2 separate regions of the Homo sapiens genome follow, and region 2 is linked to region 1. Evidence: fine-mapped expression QTL. A gene starts in region 1. The other region holds a variant in brackets. All regions are shown on one strand. Distances are from middle to middle. Region 1 holds the start of RASGEF1B (RasGEF domain family member 1B). Region 2 has its middle 250 kb from the start of RASGEF1B.

The links.
Region 2: its variant is fine-mapped to the expression of RASGEF1B in cerebellum (GTEx, PIP above 0.99). The same link has a PIP of 0.9 or more in cerebellar hemisphere.

The regions. Positions count from the first base shown.
Region 1 is chr4:81,470,638-81,473,548 of GRCh38, forward strand. It overlaps RASGEF1B (RasGEF domain family member 1B), which reads right to left and starts at 1,270. Exons shown (of 14, transcript NM_152545.3): 1 at 1,133-1,270. RefSeq lists a silencer at 1,202-1,611.
Region 2 is chr4:81,722,210-81,725,120 of GRCh38, forward strand. No RefSeq gene overlaps it. Among named protein-coding and RNA genes, the nearest start is that of RASGEF1B, 250 kb to the left of the region's middle. The variant T/C (reference allele first, on the strand shown) is at 1,291.

The DNA of each region.
Region 1 (2,911 bases):
GTTCGGCCCAAACACATACACAAATTTGTGTGCATATTCATCTATATACACCATATCCACCGAATTCATCAGGGAGGATGGACACATCTACATTCCGAAGAGAAAATCGCCGTCTAGACAATCTCCTTGTGTTATCTGCCACACTTGTGCCACCCTCGGCAGTGTCAGAGGATTAAGCTACGTTGCTTTTGCCTGAACTGCGCCGATTTGGTTGGGGCAAGACAGCAAGCAGTATTGAAATGGTACGTCCATACACACACACAAAGGCGCGCGCACCCCAGCCCCCGTCTCGCCCTTTTCCCTGGTGCAGCACTTAAGTTGTTTTCACAGCTCCCTTAGAAAGAACCTCCCTTAAGCTGACTGCCCGCGAGGCTCCTAGATACCTCTAGCTCATCTGAGATTCCCCAGGCAGGTGACCCGAGGCGACTCAACTGAGCTCTGGCAAAAGCAAGGCGACTCAGTGTCTCCCAAGTTTGCCAGGTGAACACCGAAGGATGACAGCACATCACCTTGTCGGTGGCGAGTATGTGACTTCTGTTCCCTTGTCCCTTCCTACGAGTCAGACTTTAGATTACATGGCACTGACAACAAAAATAAACAGCTCCCCCTACACACACACGCACACAAAACTGGTCAAGAAGTGGAAGAATCAACCTAGGTATGCACACGAAGGAAAGAAGGGATGAAAAAAATGATGGACGCGATTACAACTCAAGACAAATCCTCAAAAACCACCTATCTCGAGACAGAAGGCCTGGCTGCAGGATCAGGGAGAAAGAGGGAAGGCACAACCCAACCCAACCCAAGCCTGGCCCTGCCCGGGTCCCAGCGGCTCGGCCTCGCACCTGTTGGGGCCGCGGCAGTCCCAGGTACCCGCAGCGGCCGGGCAGGGGCCCTCCCCCGGTCCCGGGCTGTAACTCGGCTCTTGGCGCCCGCGTTCGCGCTCACTCGCCTCGGGATCTCCCGCCGCCTCGGAGCGCACCCGGCAGCCGGTGAAGTCTCTGAGCCCCGCTCGCTCCCCGCGCGGCCCAGGGATCTCCAGGGAGAGCGCAGCGCGCAGTAGGGTCCGGAGTTCCCGCTCCGGGCTGTGGTCCCCCAGCCGGGAGAACAACCCAGCCAGGGAACAACCTACCTGCAGGTGAACTCCGAGTCCTCGGCCTCCCGGCTGCGTGCCGCGCGCCCACAAATGCGACCAAAGGACAGGGAGCTAAAGCGCGCGGGAAGAAGAAAAACAAAATCTGTCTAACCAGTCGGGTTCCTTGTTTATACTGAAACTACGGCAGCCGCCGCCGCGCACGCCCCCCTTGGCTCAGGCGCCTGCCTCCCGCTGCCAGCCCCGCCCCGCCCCGGCAGGCGCGGGCCAATCACCGCGCAGCTCACCGCCCACGCCGCCGCCACCCGGCCCGGCAGGCAAGTCCCAGTGGGCCCCAGACTCCCGCAGCGCGTCAGCCTGGGTGCCCTCCCACGCGGCAGAGGCCCGCGGAGCCCAGCGCAGCGGTGTTTAACAGCGTTGGTCAGGCTGGCTCCGACTGTGCGCGTTTCCTCTTGAGTGCACCTGCCCCGGGCTGTTGTGCAGTCGTGAGTGTGTGTGTGTTCATTCACGTGTATACTATCTGTAAATACCGGCCCGACTCGTTACACAGTATTTATTAACATAATTGTGAGCTAAAGGTTACTGTCCATGTAACTTTCAGAAGAGAGCGGAGAGGAACCACAGAACATTTGCTTAGCAAATAACACATAGATCCTGGTGCTAAGCACTGTGCAAAACGCTGGGGGCACACTTGGCAAAGTAGGCTGGTCTCTGCCATTGTGAAACTTACATAGTCTAGTGGAGGACAGACATTCAGCAAATAATCACCCAAACAAAATGTAGAATTACAGCTGCTAGAAGTTGCACGGAGAGGAACCTGTTCCGTGAAACATGATTCCGGAGGCAAAGCAGGGAGGCTAGTCCTCAGTGAGGGCTGTGTTGTCATGGTAACCACGTACTCACTCCATCATGGGATATTTGATAACTATTTCAGAAAAAAGGTAAAAACCTCCGTACTTCACTTTGTACACATAAAAGGAGGCCAGAGGGAAATAATGATGGAAACAAGGGAAGAAAGAGACCTATGAAAAGAAAAAATTTACAGAATTAGGAGACTCTTACCAACTGTATTTCCTTGAGTAAGTGATACAGCTTTTCTGAGCTTCAGTTTTCTCATATATAAAACAACACTATTCATACCTGTCCTATACTGTTATAATTAAGATTACTGAGGGGGAGGAATCCTTTTCCCTCCTGCTCCATGGGTCCCTCCCCCTCTCCTTCCTGGGGTGGAGTCATTTTGACGCTCACTTTGTCTATTCTTAGCGGATTCCTCTTTCATTTTCTTCATTTATGCCTCCTTTTACTTTTCTTCCTCTTTATGATACTCCTTCCCTCCTTTGTGTAAATAGGACTCCTCTGATTCAGTAATTCACTCTAACCTACTTGAGCCTTTGACTTAACCATAGCTTCTCTGCAGTTTAAATGAGAAGCCATAAGGCCAAGGGAACTTGGTGGGCCAGCCATGCAGAGTGAAACACAGAGGCTGGGTGGCCCTGCCCTGCTGTTGTGGTTGTACTGGTTGGTTGATTTTTCAAGCTCAGTTTTTGCATCCCGATTCTGTAACAAACGAGCCATATGACATTGGGCCAGTCACTTACACCCTTGACATTACTGATCCTGTAGCCAGAAATTAAGAGTTGCAGGGGATTGCTGGCAAGATGGCTGAATAGGAACAGCTCCAGTCTGCAGCTCGTAGCGAGATTCACACAGAAAGCATGTGACTTCTGCATTTCCAACTGAGGTACCCAGTTCATCTCACTGGGACTGGTTGGACAGTGGGTGCAGCCCACGGGGAGTGAGCTGAAGCACGGTGGG
Region 2 (2,911 bases), 250 kb after region 1:
TTTCTAACCATCCCAGACAAGTATTCAAGTAATATGTGCCTCCCCTGTCAGGATAGCCTGTCTTGGGGCTCTCACCTTCTGCCCTTAGTACAAGAGATGAGAATGGCAGGCCAAGGTGTCCTGGGAGTAATTCATCCCTGAGTGACAGCTGGTGCTGTCAAGAGTCGTTATTGCTGGTGCGCACAGACCTTCTGGCAAAGCCAGGCGAAACACAGAAACTGCAGTCTCCCTGCCCACCTGTCAGCCTCGTCCAGGAACAGCAGAGAAATTTGCTTTTCTTCCTTCAAAGGGTCCAGCAAGCCCTAGCACCCTTATTAATGCATGCCTCTTCAGTCCCAGCCTGCCTCCCTACCCTCCCTGAACACAGACTTCCCAACCTATTCTTCCAAGAAGGGGATTAGCTCAATTAATCTCTGGACAAATGTCAAGGAGTCTGGGGGAGGGGGCACCTTTCAAGTGCCGCGCCCCAAATAGCAAATAAAGCCAGACATGCGCTGAGGCCACACCGCACAAGGGTGAGCTGCAGCAGCTGCCAACAGGATAGACCGAGTCCTTTTAATGTCAGGCTTAGCTTCCCAGGGGCTCACTTTCTTGCCAGCCTGTTCTGACAGACCACAAGCACCAGGCTCTCAAGTTCTCCTCTCACCGTCTGGGACGGGGGTAGTCGCAGGAAAGCTGCTTCGGGATCAGAATCCATTTTTGAGGCAAACGTTGCTCTCCTCTCATCTCCTGTGTTGCTGCCTTCTGTGCTTGCCCTCTCCTCTCTGGGCCCACCTGCCTCCCCCACCTTCAAAGGGCAGGCACTCCCCTCCAAAGCATGGTTAAAAAAAGATAGTTCCTAGGTTCAGAGTAAGGAAACCAAGTAGGCAAAAAAGCCACAGGGAGAAAAGCCAGGAATGGGTGGGAGTGGAGGAAATTCTCATTATCTAAACACAAAATTATTTTCCCCCAACCATAAGTTTCATCAACCTGATCCACAGAATTTTGGGAAAAGCCCTGAGAGTGCTTTCTCTTTGATCTAATTCCCAGAAAGACTTCATTCAATCCATCCAAGGGAGTGACTGAACTGGTAATAATTCTCTAGAATAGAGATTTCCCAATTGCTCTATGCTCATTCCAATTTTTTCATTTGTAAGGTATTTTCTATTAGTTTAATCCTTCTCTGTCTCTTTCTCCCTTCCTCTTCCTTTTCCCCTCTCTCCCTCTCCCCCTCTCTCTCCTTAGCCAGCAAAATCTGGCCTAACCAGCAGGCTATTAAACAGCACTTCCACATGCTACAGTCCAATGATT[T/C]GGTAATTAATTTTCATAATGATGATCTGGAAGGATTTCTACAGCCTCTTGAAAGATCCAAGAAAATATATACCCTACTGGTTATACATATGCTTTGAGTGTGAGAGGTAGCCTGGGTGTCCAGTTCTGGTGGTGTCATTTACTAGCTGTGTGGCCTCGGGCACGTTACTTAACCTCTCTGCCTATTACCATTTCCTCATCTGTGATACGAGGATACAAAGTTTATTAAGAAAGATAGCAGTTAACACTCTAGTTATGAAATATGTCCTATGAACCAGACACTATGCCAATTGATTTGCCTGAATTATTTTATTTAACCCTCACAACAACTGCTGAGTCAATATTAAGGGGATTTCATCACAGTCTCATTTGTTCAATATTAGCAATACACATATTGTACCTATGGTGACTATAAACCAGAATATCTAATTAATGTAAACATCTCATTTCCTCACTAGAAGAAGACACAGGCAGTCTACTTCAATTATTATCCAAAGCTCTTCTGTTCAGATGCGCTTTTGAATTCAGAAAATTTTTGGACTTTAGAAAGACAATATGGTTCATATAACAAACAGAACACACTGGTCTGGGGCAGCATCCTGTAACTGAACGCATTAACATTTCTGCTCTGAAACATGAATCTTCTCCCTAAAGAGAACAACACAGAGCTTCCTGTCATCTCAAAACAGGTTTTGTTACCAAAAGTCATTCAGAACAGGTAGTTTTACCATCAAATAAGTTAGAAAAGAAAAAAATAAATAAACTTAGGCTATTGTTTGTATTTCAAAATTTCAGATAGGACATTGTGAACTTTATTACACAAAAGCACTAAATAAAGAATCAAGATTCTAGTCCTGGCTCTAGTAGTAACCGCTGTGTAATTGTGGGCAAATTGCCAAGGTGCTCTGGTTTCAGATTCTTCATCTACAAAATAGGTGACTACTACTTTCTCCTAAGTTATACAGAAGTAGCTGTGAAGATCAAATGAGATAGAATTCATCAAAGTATTTTGAATAAGTGAAGTGTTTACCAAATTCAAGCTGTTTATTATCTTTTAAAATGATTTTTTCAATGATTATAGATTTAATTATGCACTACTGCTTCTTGTTTGAATGGCACAGTGTTGCTTACATGGGAAAAGATTCCCCAATTAAATCTCCTTTTTGCATGTATCACTGCTGTTGTTTCTTATACATCAATAAAGATCAGCAAATACATGATGACTGCACTACTGAAATATTTCTCTGGGTTAAACTACAAGAATCACCTCTAGGAAATAATGATAAGCTGCTGTGTCAAATCACTGCAGTTACTGAATACCTGAAAGACCATTTTTTTGTTTTGAAGAAGCAAGCTGTTCAAGTGTCAGGTTGATTTTAACCTGATTTTACAACTTCTTAAAAATCTGCTCATGTCTTCCTTTTCTGGGCGGTCTATGAAGACAGCATTGGCCTGGGAGTTTGATGATCCAGTTGCTAGTCCCAGCCTGACCTCTAATGTTCTGTGTCATCTAGGACAAGTCACAACACCTCTGAGATGAACTCTCCAAGTCCCTGAGCCTAGTCAGACTTTGGGAGGCAAGAGAGGGTTCACTGCTCCTATTTGTTGTCCCCAACAGAAG